Regions from separate parts of the Homo sapiens genome. Here region 1 is linked to region 2. A link means that fine-mapping ties the variant in region 2 to the expression of a gene that starts in the linked region. Tissue or cell type: whole blood. Region 2 holds a variant in brackets; the other region holds the start of a gene. All regions are shown on one strand. Distances are from middle to middle.

What was found. PIP is the estimated chance that this variant, and not a neighbour inherited with it, causes the effect.
Region 1: CD82 starts here. The variant in region 2 is fine-mapped to the expression of CD82 in whole blood (TOPMed, PIP above 0.99). The same link has a PIP of 0.9 or more in monocytes after R848.

Annotation. Positions count from the first base shown.
Region 1 is chr11:44,560,661-44,568,835 of GRCh38, reverse strand. CD82 (CD82 molecule) reads right to left here and starts at 3,173. Exons shown (of 10, transcript NM_002231.4): 1 at 3,100-3,173. RefSeq lists enhancers at 2,085-2,154, 2,660-3,160, 6,000-6,499, 6,500-7,001 and a silencer at 3,075-3,674.
Region 2 is chr11:44,587,126-44,595,300 of GRCh38, reverse strand. It overlaps CD82 (CD82 molecule), which reads right to left. Exons shown (of 10, transcript NM_002231.4): 2 at 7,745-7,826; 3 at 576-658. The coding sequence starts at 638. Among named protein-coding and RNA genes, the nearest start is that of CD82-AS1, 14 kb to the left of the region's middle. The variant C/T (reference allele first, on the strand shown) is at 3,131.

The DNA.
Region 1 (8,175 bases), 26 kb after region 2:
GGGAGGACTGTCTGGTCCTTAGGGGAACAGGTTTGGGTCCCCAGGGTGGAAGGGGATGGCCGGTGGGAGCTTCCAGGCTGTGGCTCTAAAGCGTGAGGCCTCAAGACAGAGGGGGCCGCCCCCACATAGCGGAAACTTCAGAGGAGCCCAGGGAAGCCAAAATCCTGCCCCAGTCCCCCTACTGTGGGAAACTTGTGCCCTGACTGCTCACCCACTGCCAGAGATAGCACATGGCTGACCTCTCACCCCTATCCTCCCTGGGCTGGGATGGGAGGGAGGGATCAGCAGGCACTTCTTCTAACCATCCCGCCCCCGACCCCCAAACTTACTGCTGGCTGGCACAGGCTCCCACCTTTCGGCCCAGATGCCTCCCCTTCATGGGCAAACCCCTCTGTAGCATTCATCACCCTCCCAGCAACCCCGCCACTCACCCAATCCAGCCACCTTCCTGAGACCCTGCTATGTACCAGACAGGATAGGGAGGAGAAAGAAGTGCAAATGTGCTGGAACAGTCCCCTCCCACCCCTCCAATGGTGCCTTTGCTCTCCCTGTGGCTGGTGTCTCTTCCTTCACTCCCAGTTGCAGACATCCCCAAAGCCACCCAGACCCCTTCTTCCCAGTCACTGCAGCCATTGGTTCATTATCCCTTGACCGCTGGATCCTCCACCCCAGCACATCTGGTACAGACTGACTTTCCTAAAGTGCTGCTCTGTTGTGTCACTCCTCTCCTCAGAAACCTTCAGTGGCTCCCACTTTCTGCAAATCAGATCCAAAGTTCTTATCCTGTCATTCAAGGCCCTCCGTAAGCTGATCCCACCTACTATTCCCACTGCATATCCCCACACGTTCCCAAACTTCAGCCAGAATGAGCAACCTAGAGGTTTCTCGAGAATTCTCAGGACAGGTTGACCTCCCTGCCTCTGCCTAGGCATTTTCCTCTCCTCAAGACACTATCTTCATTCTGGCTGCCGAAATCTTCCCAGTCTGTAAGGCCCTGAAGATCCCTCTAATCCTTTTTTCATTTATCTTCCATCAGAGTCCCTGGTATTCTTGTGTAAGCCCCTTCCCGGATGGTAAGCAACCTGAGGGTGCAGGCCTTATGTGGTCGCTTGTCATTCATCGAGCAGGAAGTGGGGGTGGTGGTGGGGAGGGCTTTCCATTAAGGCTCACTAGGTAGGCTCTGTTGAAATGAACGTCTCCTCCTCCCCACCTCAGGCACCACCTACCAGACCCTCTCCCTCCCCACCATACCAAACTCCAATTTATGCCACTTCAGTGCTTGAAGAGACTGTGGTCCCATGTTGATCCAAGCCAAACCAGGACCAGGAGCCCAGAGAGAAAGTCCTATTCAAGTCTCACCCCCTCCAGGAAGCCTCCTTACCCCCACCCCCTGCCCTGGCTTCTCAAGTGTCTCACTCTTCTGAACACCTCCCCCTGCCCTACATACACACACAGTCTCCTGCACACAGCGCAGCCGCCAGTCCGTCTCTGTCCCACAGCACTTTCCAGTTTGTTCCATACTGTACAGCTTATCTCCCAGAAGATGCAGGGAGCCAATATAATGCAGCACCTTCAGCGTCCTTCAGTGTCCAACCCTGCTTAGATATCGGGTGCCCACATTGCCCCTCGCCCCCATCCCAAGCCAAGTGTGCAATGGTATAGCTGGATTCCAGCCACCAGGGCAGAACAGACCCATGAAATCTCATCTGGTTATAAGCCCTGGGTGTGACTGATCCTCTCTACAGGGACATGGTAGGGATGGGGGAGCCCTCATTGTCAGCAACTCAGGCCTGGCTAGTTCACCTCTGTATCCTCTAGCTCTCTCTAGCATATAGTAGGTGCTCAGTAAACATTTTTAGACTTATTTAACTCAACACTTACCAACCTCAAGCAACATTACAGAAAACTCAGCCACTCTTTGTTCCAGATGACACAGTCCTCATCCCTCAAATAGAGTGATGTTGGTGGCAGGTGGCAATTTCTGGCTTTCACAAGGTCAGGAGGGGCTGTAGCCAACCCCATCTCTCCAAGAAAAAAAAAAGGCTCATTCCCCATAGGAAGCAAGCCCATCACCTGCCCACCCGCATCAAAGCAGCTGTCACAGAGGGAGGTCTCACTGGTTTCCTGGCACCTTGCTAAGTAGTGTATACACATTATTCTATTTAGTGCTTGCTCCTGCTATTGGATATTGTCATTATCCCCATTTTACAGGTGAGGAAACTGAAGTTTGGAGGGGGAATGGAATCCAAATCAGTTTGATCCCAAAGCCCAAGCCTTGACCACAGAACTATGCTGCCCCGCTACTGGGGCCCAGCACAGAGCACCCACCACCTCCAGGAACAGAACCCGTCAGCCAAGAAATTAACCCCGGGTATGCTTCAAGGGCCCCTGGGGCCCTGGGCTTGACCCTGGGCCCAAGGATTGGTGGGGTTTTCCCTTCTCTTCCCCACTCACCAGTGTAAGAACTGTTCCCCAGTTTCCAACCTCCTGCTCAGGCCAGCTCACCTGGAAAAGCCCCACTGAGTTTCCAACTTGAAGTCTTAGGGGGTCCGGCTCAGTTGAACTGTTAGAATTGGTGGGAAGCAGGTGAGGCGGGAAATGGAACCTCCCTGCTTTGGCCTCCTCTTCCCCAGGGTTGGTGGGTTCGAGCCCCAACCGAGGAAACAGTGCACTCTTTAAAGCAATTCGCTTCTCTCAGTCCCATTTTGCAGGGAGAGAAACTGCAGAGGGCAACGCGATGGGAACACCTGTGGCGACCTGCAGCCTGCTCTCACCTGCCAGCTCTCACCTTCCGGCGTTTTAAGTGAGAAAGGGCAACGGGAGCGTGGAATTCACCTGGTTCACTTCCTCCTGCTGGAACCCGGGAGGTCCAGAGCCAGGTAGAGGGACGGACCCAGGATCACGCAGCTGTGCACGGCCGAGTGTGAGAACTGGGGGTTCAGGACTGGTGGCTAAAGCTCCTTTTCACCCACCAGCTGCCCCGACCTGTCACTAGTTCCGAGGAAAGTTGTCCGAGCCGGACCGCAGAAGCGGGGGCTAAAACTAACTTTGCCTATGGTTGTCCGGCAGGCTACCCCGGCCCGCTGCCCCCTTGCTCACCTGCGGGTTCTGCTTTCTGCTCCGCGCTGCAGGCCCAGCGTCACCCGCTCGTGCCTCAGTCGGCGTCGGACTGCACAGCCCGGGGCTCAGTCACTCCTCGGCCCCCTCCCGGCTGCAGCCGGGGAACGCCGCGGACTCGGCAGGCCCCGCCCCCAGAAGACACGCCCCCTCCGCCGGCCCCGCCCCCGAGCCCTTTGGGAAGGCGGTGCGCTCCCGCCGGCCAGGCCCCGCCCACTATGGCCGTACCCCAACCAGCCTCGCCCCCGGGCCCAGCTGGAGCTGAGGCCCCGCCCCGCTACGGAGTCTCTCCTCTATCCCGGCAGCCCCGCCCCCAGGTTACACTGGGGATTAAGCCCGCCCCGCTCCAGCCCTGTCCACTCACGGCGCTGCCTAACGGTCCCGCCCAGCTCCCGCCTACCTCGTCCTCCCGGTCTCCTCCCGGGCCCTCCCAGCGCCCCCGCCTCCTTCACTTTCTCCTTCGAGCCCACCCCATCCCCCGGCCCTAGTAGGGTGAGGCCACGCCCCTCCCCGCACCAGCCTGGGCTCAGCGCCTTCCTAATCCTGCCCTGCCCTGCCCCTCTCATCTCGGGCGGGTAGCCCTGGGGCCCCCACGCTGGCATTCCAGGGCGGGTGTATCCGGGTGCCGCCGGGGAACGGCGTGGGAGCGGTTTGTGTCCTAAGTCGGGGCCTCTATCAGGAGGCGGCCTGGGCCCAGGAACTTTTTGAAAATACTGACTACCATTGATTGAATCCTTGCCAGGGGCCAGGCTCTATGCCAAGCGCTGAATACAGTTCTAGCCCTTGAATTCCCACAACTCATGGGTACTCTCGTTGCGCCTATTTTACTAATGCGCAGTTTAAGGCTCAGAGAAGGGAAGTCGAGGGCTCTGAATCTCATGGAGGCGGGCGTGAGCGGGATCCAGCCTCAGGTCCTGAGTCACAGGCTTGAGCTGCCCCAGCTTGCCTGGACTGGCCCCTGGGGAAGTAGCCCAGAACAACCAGTGCTGGGGCAGTGCCCAGCAGCTGCCTGAGGTGAGGGAGGAGGTGTGGGTTGATGAGAATAGTGGCAGGAGGGGCTGTGGGCCTAAGCCCTCAAAGCTGGCTTTCTCCCTGAAGAAAAAGTGGCCCAAAATTGAGGTGGGCTGCAAGAGCTCTCTAGGTGGCTGCGGTGCCCACCCTGCGTCCCAGCCCTCTGCCCTCCCAGGCTCCAGAGGACTAGCCTCAGGCAGATTACCTGGTTAATGACCAGGGGCATTCACCTGTGCAGCTGACAAAGCTCTTTCACTTCCATTATCACAATGTCCTCTCACAACACACCGTTGTGGGAGGGTATGATTATGAGCGCTTTGTACGAGTGGAGTAAGGGCGGGAGCTGGATCCCAGCCCAGCACTGTAGTTCTCACAGCGTGGTCCTTGAACCAGGAGCAACATCATCTGGGAACTTGTTAGGAGTGCGTATTTTGAAGCCCCATCCCAACTTACTGAATGGAAAACTGTGGGACAATTGGTTTTAATAAGGCCTCCAGGTGATTCTGAATCACATTCAAGCATGAACCACTGTTGAGCAAACTGTAAAGAAGTCAGGGTGGTCTGAGAATCACACAGACCTAGGTAGCTTCCTGGTTGCGTTTTAAACCCAGGACAAGGCAAGATACTTAACCTCTGGGATGAGCCCTTAAACAGGGAATAATAATAAAATGAGCCATAACAATCATACCGATCTTGATGGTAGCTGTTGAAGATTACATGTGACAGCATTCATAAAGTATTTGGCCCACCGCTTGAATGCCGTACATGCTCAGAAAATGTTCTCTTTTCAGCAAAAAGTCTCCTTCATAGCATTCCCACACCAAGTCAGAAAAGTGAGGCTGGAGAATCCTTTAAACCCAGCAGTGTGTCATACCCGCAGAGAGACACCCTCTATCCTGCAAGTGGTTAAGATCCTAACAAGCTCCTAGATGATGTGGATGCTGGTCCGGGGACCACACTTTGAGAACCACTGTGCCATTCTGTCTTGGGCTGGGTTTCAGATCCCTACCCTACCCAGCCCATGCAAAATGGGCATAAAATTCCTCCTATTCCACCCTACTCCACACCCCGCTCCCTCCGAGCTGGGGGTGTTTGTGATGGTGTATGGCAGATGCTCCTGACAGCAATAACTTGACTTAAGCATACCCTGAGAATGGTCCTGTATGGCAGATGCACCCCAATGTGTGTTTGGAGTTTTGAGCTAAGGAATCCGGGAATGACCAACCTGGAGATTCATTCCTTATCTGTGAGGAACATTTGAACCCCGGCCCATCCTGTGGAATGCAGGGTGTACAGGGGTTCAAAGCTCTTTGTTTGGGGCCAAATGAAGGTTATCAGGTGGGGGTTGTTAGGGGGAGGGTGCTAAGTGAGAGTGATGTATAAACTGCATGCTTTTTGTAAGCGGTTGTGGCTCTCCTGCCCAGCCTGCCATGGGACTGTACAGTTCTCCTGTCCAGCCCACTGCCACCGGCCGTCCCTGTGTGTAAGTTTCCCAATAAAACCCCATGTCCCAGTTGCTGGCTCTGGTCTCTCCTTCAGCCTCTTGAACCTAGTACCATCCCTACTGAAGTTAATAGGGCTCCAGCAGACAGATGGGAACTGGCCATTGGCAAAACAGCTGGATCCCCTCACTGTCCCCTCCCCCCATGAAGACATTCTCTCATATTAGTCCCATCTGCTATCCCTTGCTGCCCTGCCACTCCTGATTAGAGATAGAGGCAGCTGTGGTGACATTGAGAGCAGTCTTCAGGCAGCTTCTAGAATCTCTGCCATACTCCCTGTCATTGTCTGAGTCCCACAGAAGAGTGTCTCCCTGTAGGAGTGCAGGGCCTGGGCACTGGTCCTGTTATGCTGACCTGCCCGAACATGGAGAGCCCAAGTTAAGAGTGCAAATCAAGGACCAGATACCTTGTATCTAAACATTTAACTGACTGTGAAATAAAATGTGTATTCTCCTGCCTTGACAAATGTTCTTTCTAATGACCAGGAAGACCATGTTCAAATTTAGCATTCTTGGACTCTTTAGAATTTTATGCAAGAACATGGCAGTGCGGGAGGATAGCCTGGCCCTAGCCCTCAGCCCACCCACTCCACTTCTCTTCACACTCCATCTCTGTCTTGTGTCACAAGTGGCCTAGGACTCAGGCATGTGGATACTCCAGCCCACACACCCAAACTTTGCCCACACGCCTTGCCTACAGCCACCTCTTCGTCACCTCTCTATGAATGCACATTCCAGGGACAGGATGTACCCTCAGGAGGATGGACCTGGGCAGGCAGCTTTGTAAACCTTAAAACTGGCTGGGGGGCTGAGCACAGTGGCTCACACCTGAAATCCCAGCCCTTTGGGAGGCTGAGGCAGGAGGATTAAAGAGCTCAGGGGCTCAAGACCAGCCTGGGCAACAGGATGAAACCCTGTCTCTACAAAAACTACAAAAATTAGCTGGGTGTGGTGGCGTGTGCCTGTGGTCCCAGCTACTCGGGAGGCTGAGGTGGGAGGATCGCTTGAGCCAGGGAGGCGGAGGTTGCGGTAAGCTGAGATTGCACCACTGCACTCCAGCTGGGCAACAGAGCAAGACCCTGTCTCAAAAAACAAAACAAAACAAAACAAAACAAAACAAAACAAAACAAAAAAACTGGCTTGGGCTGGATAGGCAGTCTAGGTTTTTAAACACCCAAAGCATGATCAAGGTCAGGTGTGGGCTCTGGGTGGCCACAGGTGCCCTCTTGTCCAGGTCTATGGTGACATTGCCATTTGGCCTTGTCTCCCCAGCTTCTAGCACATGCCTGGAAGCTTAAGGGACAGTTGTTGAGTAGATGTGCATCTGAGTCTAACTTAGTCCATTTTCTGTTGCTATAACACAATACCATAGGCTGGGTAATCGATAAAAGAATTTTATTTTGTATAGTTCTGCAGCCTGGGAATTCCAAGGTTGAGAGGCTACATCTGGTGAAAGCCTTCTTACTGACTCATCACATGGTGAGAGGGCAAGGGCATGCCACCGCAGGTCTCTCTTCATCCTATTATAAAGCTACCAGTCCTCATCATGAGGGCCCCATCCTGATGACCTTATCTAATCCTCCCAAAGGCCCTACCCCCAAATACCATCAACATATGAATTTGGGGATTCAGTTTCCAATACATTCAAACCATAGCAGAGTCATTCACTGAAATATCACATTGGGTTGGCTCCCTCAGCATTGTCCCTATCCCCTCTCTTCCAGCAGAAGGCAAGCTTTGTCATGACTCACCTTGGGCATTTTGCCAGGCAGAAAGCGCAGACACTTCTAGTGAGACTCTACCTCTAGTCCATTCTAGAGGTGGAGCCAGGAGTTCTGGAGGTGGGAAAAGGGGTGAGAAGAACCACCCTAGAAAGCCTTGAGAGAAGATATCCATGGCCAACTTGGAGATGGGGAAGACGGTGGTGTGGCAAGACCTCAGAGAGGTATGGCTATAGGATTGCCAGGCTCTCAGAAGATTCCCCCACCCCAAAGGTGGAAGATGAACAGCTGAGCAGGAGACTTCAAAGAACTTGTAGGCAAGAACATGGGGGCCAGTTCCCTGTTAGTGTCTGGGCCTAGGTTAAGGCCCCAAGACTTTTGCACATCTCTGGTGGAGGAAGGTAAAGAGAATGAGTGCGGGTATCTGTTTCCTACTGTTATGTAACAAACCATCCCACTCATTTATTTTGCCCATAAATCTGCAGTTTGGGGTGGGCTCAGCAGCAACGGCTTATCTCTGCTCTACGCAATGTCAGGTGGTTCAATTGGAGGTTGGGGATCCATTTTCAAGATGGTGTACTCACACACCTAGCAAGTTGGCACTTGCTGCCAGCTGGGAGGTCAGCCAGAGCTGTGGAGGCCTTTGGTCCTCTCCATGAGGCTGCTCCACAGGTTGCTTGAGCTTCTTCATAATTTGGCTGCCGGTTTTGAAGAACAAAGACTCACTTAGAAGTGCATGGCATTTTGTGACCTAGCCTTAGAAGTCATATAGGATCACTTCCTTTGCATCCTATTAGTAGAAGCAGTCACCAAGGCCCTGGTTCA
Region 2 (8,175 bases):
AATGTCCACAGAGCTGACATCCGGATGGCCCATCTGCTGGGGTGGGTCTGGGGAAGGAGGTATGTGCCCTTCACTGGCCCCACGCCTGGCGCCCTCTTGCTCTCCCTATGAGAGCTCAGGGAGATACCTTCCCACGACAGGGACGGGGGTGTGATAGGGGCAACTGGGGCCTGGAACTGTCACAGGTCAATTCTTCACATGGGCAGGGTGGGGGCCAGGACAGGACTAGAGAGATGCTAAGAGGCTTCTTCTAGCAGCTCCTGCTGTTGAGTTAGGGGGATGCCCAGGGGCTCTCCTCTCCTTCCCCATACCCACCGCCAGCCCAGGCTTTGGGTGATCTAGGAGAGGGGAAGGCCGGGTCAGGAATCCAGTGCTTGGTCAAAGGACCAGCTGGGAATGGCAGGGAATCTCCTCACCACCCCAACTAGGTTCCGTTGGAGATAGTTCGTCCTCAGTCCCTACCCACCAAATCCCCCCAATCCCCGGCCCGGTCGGCTCTGGAAAGGCTCAGGCTGGGATGCCCCTGGAAGGAGAATCTTTTCGGAGGTGGTCAGGACGGCATGGGACATACTTACAAAGAAGATCAAGTTGAAGAGGAAGAGAAAGTATTTGGTGACTTTGATACAGGCTGAGCCCATCCCGCCAGTCCTGGAGCTTCCTGGAAGAGAGAAGGCAGGCAGGCCAGTGAGGGGATCAGCTCAGTCTGCCCTTGCAGCAACCCCAGGAGGTGGGTACTAACCCTGTCCCTGCCTTAGAGGATGCAGAGGCCCAGAGAGGTTAGACAACTAGCCCAAAGCCACACAGCTAGGAAATGAGGTCCCACGAGCAGTCTTGTGTGCCAGGCACTTGATGCTTGGCAGTTAGGATCCGGATCAGCCACTGCACTGGGGCTGGGGCTGGGGCTGGGGCTGGTGGGAGCAAAATGACAGAGGGAGACCCTCACCCCTCACCTCCATGACCCAGGCTCTGGAACTTGCACAGATGGACTCTGTTTGAAGTCAGGGGGCCGGGAAGTTAGTGATCCATTGACAGAGACCCAGAGGTGAGACCTGTGCTTGTTCCACAGACTCCCTCTGGGACTAGGGGCTGGGAGTTGTGGGGTCTGCCAAGGCGAGAAGGGGAATTTTGGCTTCTCAGAAAATAGGCTGAGCGTCCCAGCTTCTTATTACAAAGGGAATAAACATGCATTGTAGAACACCCAACAAATACAGAAAAACAGAAATCAAGCAAAATGTATCTCACTCCAGAGATTAAAAACTGTCATCGTTTTAGTAGCTATTATTCGTGTGTGTGTGTGTGTGTGTGTATAACAAATGGTTCTAATCAAAATTGGGCTCATTCTGTATAGTGTTTTCTAGCCTGTTTTTTTCATTCTACAATCTTCACTCTCTATATGTTGATAAAATGCTCTTCATAGTTTCACATGTTGCATAGGATTCCATCCTATTAGTACTTATTAACATTTGGGGGCTCACAGAGTCCCCCAAAAAATTCATGTGTAGTTAGCATTTTGTGATGCTAATAATTTCTGGGAGTTCATGGACCTCTGAAACCCATTCAGGAACCCCAGTGGCCCCAGGTTAAAGTCTCAGATGTGGCCATCCCATAAAAGCATTTAACTGATACTCTAAGATTGGACACACAGGTTGTTTCCAAGTTTTCACAGTCTCCCCGATGACACAAGTTGTGCTTCTGAAATGACACAAACCATGCTTGGGCATGCTGTGCCCCCTCCACTCCAAAAGACCCCAGGTGAGGGGAGGGCCCCGGGAGGAAGAGGGAAGCTGGAAGCTGACTGTTCTCACCCTGACTCAGAGGCCAGAAAATCCAGGAGTGCCAGCCGCCAGCCTTCAGACCCTTTGGGGCAAAGGGAGCCAGCACCGCCGGGCAGCTGGGGCCTGGACAGCTGGCCTGGGACAGCTGCATGGGCAGAGCTGGGCTGGGGGGGTGGAGGGGACGGCACCAGGCCCACTTGTGTTTCCCTGCCTTATGGAGGGGGAAGGGCAGGCCACAGAGCAAAGGGAAAGGAAAGCCGGAGGCCCGGGCTTCACTCCTTCTTCCTCCAGCACCACTTGAAAGTCTTCAATTTCCCCGGCTACACACAGGTTCCCTACTCTTTTCTGGACATGCTAACGATCAACAATCTTCCATCCTCCTTGTCAAGTGGGAGCTCAGCTTCCACTTCACACACCTCCGGTGATGGGGAAGGTGGCTAATGAGGAGGGTTCATGACCTCCCAAGGGGTCCAGTCCAGTTTTCTTTCCTCTAACAGCTTTGTTACAGGAAGTTTTCTTTAAGTGCCTTTTTAAAGGGCAGATTTGGGAGGTATAATATGAAGCAAAGCTGCCCAAGTTAGGAAAAAGCTGCCTGGGTGGTAGTGAGCTTCCCATCACAAGCGGCATGGAAGCAAAGTCTAAAAAAATACTCCTGGGGGATTTAAGTGCTATGTAGGGAGATTAGACTAAATGGCTCTTCCAGTCTAGGGGGCTCCAAGGCCTGGGTCTGAGAATTGCAGAGATGGCAGTGACTCGGGAGCCAGGGCAGTGCAACCTGGGCAACTCCCCAGACCTAGAGAGGAGAAAACATGACTTCCCCGTGCCCAGGAAGCCAGAGATCTTCAATGCCCAAACCCCGTCCTGGCCTAGGAAGGCCTCCTGGGAGTCTGCACTACATCAAGGATAGCTATTGTTTTTCCTCTCTCTCACCTCCCAGCACAGAGCCTGACATACCACAGGCACTTCACAGACTCCAGGAACTAAACAGCAAGAGAAGAGAGATTCTCTCCCAAAGCCAGGCGGCATCTGTTCTTCTTTCCTACCACGGATCTGCTGTGTTTCAGCCTGACCAGGTCTCCTCCCAGTAAACAATACGGGGCATGCCCCAAGAGACCAACCAGGTTCAGCGCCCAAGCAGCAGTAGCTAGGCCACCCCTTCACCAGAAGAACATCCACTAACTGCAGTCCGCCAACAAACTATGCGTCTTGGCAATGGGGCCATTGGCATCCTTGTGAAATTGCAGAAGTGTGGAAAGAGTTCTTTGGCAACCCTGAGTCAGATCCACGGTGTTGCAGTTTCAGAAAGTCCGGGAAAGGGGTTTCTACACTTTCCAGCTCACACATCCTCTGCTCAG[C/T]CTCACGGTGGGGCATTCAGCAAAGGGCAGCTTTTAGAAAAGAATAAGTATAGGCCGGGCACGGTATCTCATGCCTGTAATCCCAGCACTTTGGGAGGCCGAGACTGGCAGAAGACCTGAGGTCAGGAGTTCGAGACCAGCCTGGCCAACATGGTGAAACCCCATCTCTACTAAAAATACAAAATTAGCCAGGCGTGGGGGTGGGTGCCTGTAATCCCAGCTACTCAGGAGGCTGAGGCACAAGAATCGCTTGAACCCAGGAGGTGGAGGTTGCAGTGAGCTGAGATTGCGCCACTGCACTCCAGCCTGGGCAACAGAGACTTTGTCTCAAAAAAAATAAAAACAAAAATAAGAGTAAGTATGACGTCTGTAAGGAGAAGGAGTGGCCGCCAGGGAATAGCAACTACTACAAGTGGCCATGTTCAGACATCATCCCCCATCATCCTCACAACCAGCCCAGGAAGTGAGTATTCCTATCCCTGGCAGACCAGAGGCTCAGACAGGTTCAGTAACTTGCCCAAGTCACACAGGTCATAAGTGGCAGTGGTTTTCAGACCCCAAGATCTTTCTTCTGTGAAGTGGTCCCTCCTGGACAGTAGCCAGGATTATAAAGGGATCTTTGGGGACGGCTGGGTTTCCTTTGTCCAGTTAGGTGTGAGGACAAAATGACTGCTCAGAGGAGCTCTGCTCAGAGGGCAAGGAGGAGGCTGGGAAACCTTGTCACCAAGGCAGACGTGGCTGGGCTGGTATTCCCATGATATTCCAGACCCTGGGCAAGCTTGGCTGGTCCCTTGGTCACGCACACAGATTGTATCAGGCACTGGGCTAAGCTCTTCAGCCCTCTACATGCAAACAGAGGCACAGAGGGGAGAAGGAGCCTGCCCAAGGTCTCAAGTAGGAGGACTGGCAAGGACAGGGCCCAGGCTGCCTGGCCCCTTACACCACCCATGGGCTCCATCCCACACAGGAGGCAGCTGGGTGGGTCCAGAGGCTGAAATGAGAGCCAGGCAGCCCAGTCAAGTGGGACAGACCCAGAGGTATCTGGACATCACCCGAGGGAGGAGAAGGTGCTGATAACTGGAACCTGGGATGGGCAGCTCCCAGGCACACTGGCCAAGATCCAGAAGACAAAGTCTTCCTGCCCTGCAAGTGCAGATGCTTCTGCCTCAAACTGACAGGGAGCAGAGGGTGAAGAACATTCTCCACACTCAGCGGGAGATGGGCAATCCCACACAGGCAAGGAAGTCAGCTCAGCCTGAGGCGGGGACACACCCAGGTCACCCACGATGGGCTGTGGCATCAACTTCAAGGAATCCACAACCACCACCAAGCTCCAAGGAGCCCCCGAGGTTGAATTCAGAGTGCCAGGGGTTATGCCCGGCTCTGCCCTCCCATACTGAGAGCTGAGCCTCAGTCTGCCATCCATGAGACAGAAATAAGGGTTGGTGTGGAACCAGGGTTGGTAAACTGCAGCCTGCAGACCAAATCCAGCCCCCTGCCTGTTTTTTATACAGCTTCTGAGCTAAGAACAGATTTCATCTTTTTTTTTTTTTTTTTTTTGAGACAGAATCTCCCTCTGTTGCCCAGGCTGGAGGGCAGAGGCACAATCTTGGCTCACTGCAAGCTCCGCCTCCTGGGTTCACGCCATTCTCCTGCCTCAGCCTCCCAAGTAGCTGGGACTACAGGCGCCCGCCACCATGCCTGAATAATTTTGTTTTTGTATTTTTAGTAGAGACGGGTTTCACTGTGTTAGCCAGGATGGTCTCGATCTCCTGACCTCGTGATCCACCTGCCTCGGCCTCCTAAAGTGCTGGGATTACAGACGTGAGCCACTGTGCCCGGCCCAGATTTCATATTTTTAAATAGTTAAAAGAAAAATAAAAAGATTCTTTAATGCATGAAAATTACATGGAATCTAAATTTCTGCACACAGCCATGCCTACTGGTCTATCTGGCCCTTTACAGAAAAAGCCTGCTGGCCCCTGGTGTAGAGGATCAAATGGCGCACCCACAAGTGTCTGTAAGAGGCAGCAAGGGTCGCCAGGCGCGGTGGCTCACACCTGTAATCCCAGCACTTTGGGAGGCTGAGGCAGGCAGATCACGAGGTGAGGAGATCGAGACCATCCTGACTAATACGGTGAAACCCTGTCTCTACTAAAAATACAAAAAATTAGCCAGGCGTGGTGGCGGGCGCCTGTAGTCCCAGCTACTTGGGAGGCTGAGGCAGGAGAATGGTGTAAACCCAGGAGGTGGAACTTGCAGTGAGCCGAGATCGCGCCACTGCACTCCAGCCTGGGCGACAGAGCGAGACCCCGTCTCAAAAAAAACAAAACGAAGAGGCAGCAAGGGTCACGACTACCCTTAGCACGGGAACTTTGGAGAAAGAAAACAGCCAGCTGGGTGGCAGGAATTGATTGTGACTTAGAGAGAGAAGACACAGGATCCCTGAACAAGGGTTCAAATCCTGGCTTTGCCAATGTGTGGCCACAGAGGAGGGACTTCCTGGGCCTCATTCATCTCCTTGGGGAGTGGAACTCCCAACTGGACTCCCGTCCTAAAGAGGGAGTGAGGTCAGCGCCTGGTACAGTCAGGACTCAATGACCCGGAGCTGGGGCTGGTGTCTGTATCATCATCATCAGTTGGCTCAGTGCTTGCAGAAGCAGCAAGGGATGAGGATTTAATTTACAGATGATCTTAAGCCAAAAGAATGTCCTCCAATGTTATGCTTTCTTGTGTATACTTTTGGTAAACATTGGAGAGTCTGCCCAAGCTTTCCTGTGTTAAAAACACTGACAATTCAAGGGAATGAGATGCAAGCACATCTTAATGGGAAACTTCCAGAACAGTCACAGAGAGCTGTGAGCAGCAGGATGGAGGTACTGATCTTTGTTATGGTGGTGGTGGTTGTTTTGAGGCACTCTTGCTCTTGCTCTGTCACCCAGGCTGGAGTGCAGTGGCACAATCTTGGCTCATGGCAACCTCCGTCTCCTAGGGTCAAGTGATTCTCCTGCTTCAGCCTCCAGAGTAGCTGGGATTACAGGCATGTGCCATCATGCCCGGCTAACTTTTGTGTATTAATAGAGACAGGGTTTTGCCGTGTTGGCCAGGCTGGTCTTGAACTCTTAACCTCAGGTGATACACCTGCCTAGGCCTCCCAAAGTGCTGGGATTATAGGCGTGAGCCACCGTTCCTGGTGAGGTGCTGATCTTATGTTATACTTGACACCAGGTAAATTGACCATTTCTGAGCAACTACAATTTTAATTGACGAAATATATCATTTTATGCCAAATCAGTTTGTATAATAAAATTATTATATTAATATTTTGCCAACTTCTACTTATCATTTAACACTCACCTCCAAAATCACCACCTCCAGGAAACTTCCTACTCCAGCCAGCTTTTTCATCACTACCACTGCCACCCTCTGACCCCCAAGACACATGTTGGTTAGGGGCACTCCCTCTCTCCTTCCTTCCAGTGGCACTGGAGACTAGAGCAGCTCCCTGAACAGGCTCTGGCATCAGGCTGCCTTGGATTTGAATGCAGTTCTAATGCCTCCTAGCTGTGTGACCTTGGACAAGTGACTTAACCTCTCTGAGCCTCACTTTACTCATTGGTGAAATGACAAAGATAAAACTTATTTTGCAGGCTGGGTACGGTGGCTCAAGCCTGTAACCCCAGCACTTTGGGAGGTCGAGGCGGGCGGATCACGAGGTCAGGAGTTCGAGACCAGCCTGGCCAACATGGTGAAACCCCATCTCTATTAAAAATACAAAACTTAGCTGGGCATGGTGGCGGGTGCCTGCAGTCCCGGCTACTTGGGAGGCTGAGGAAGAGGAATTGCTTGAACCCAGGAGGTGGAGGTGGCAGTGAGCCAAGATCGCACCTCTGCACTCCAGCCTGGGTGACAGAGTGAGACTCCACCTAAAAAAAACAAAAAACAAAAAACAAAAAAAAAACCCCAAAATCCTACTTTGCAGATTTGTCCAGACATTAAATTAGGGCAAAATGCCTGCCACATGGTCTGCTGTGGATAGACGGCAGTTCCTATAACGCATGCTGTGCAGTCACTTTCTACTTACCTGTCCCTTTCCCCTGAGGACTGTGATACCTTGACGGGAAGACTGTTATTTACGAGAACAAGGCAGACTCCCAACAAATATTGCTGCATGAAAGACTGGGTGGATGCAGGGATGGAGGGGTAGGTAGGTGGATGGATGGATGGACAGACAGATGGAGGGACTGCCACAAAGAACACCAGGGCTTTCAAGTTCTCGGCCACCTGAAGGCAGTCTGAGTTCCACTGCCCCTGAGTCCGAAGAGACGGTTCTCAGGCCTCTTCTGTCCTTGCCCGCAGGGCAGGTTGGGGGTGTGTCAGGTGCTCAACCCTGGGCCAGCTCTGAATGCCAGGACCTGCTGCCGAGCCTCCCCAGGGACCAGCACTCCAGGACTCTAAATGCTGTAGGAGCCAGAGAAGGGGAAGAAGTGGTCCCTCCACCCACCTGGTGGCTCAGACTGAACACCTGAGGGCCATGCTCGGTCTCCACCTTCCTCGCCTCACAGCCCAAGTGTGTCCCCTCCAACCCACCACTCCTCTCAGCCCAGGACTTACCTTCCACGAAACCAGTGCAGCTGGTCACAGGGCCCACTTCTGCCTGTGCCCACGTGTCGTCCACACAGCAGCAGGGAGGACTCTGAAAAACACGACCCAGATCTCGTCACTCCTGTCTGTGACTCTCCAAAGGCAATGTGGCTGAAGACATACTCACTTTAAATCCAGGCTCCCCGTGTGGCCGGCGGGGCCCCGCCAGGGTTGCCATTCCTCTGTCCTCTTCCCCCCACAGGCTCATGTAGCCTCTTTCCTGTTGTCCTGGTATATCAGGCCCCAGGTCCTTATACCTACCTGAGGGCCTTTGCAAAAGGGTTTCTCTGCCAGAATTACTCTTTTCCCGTATTTTCCCACAAGCCTTGGCTCAGAAGGCTGACATCCCTCCTCCCAAAGGCCCTCCCTAAACACCCAATCTATTCAGAAGGCCTCAACTC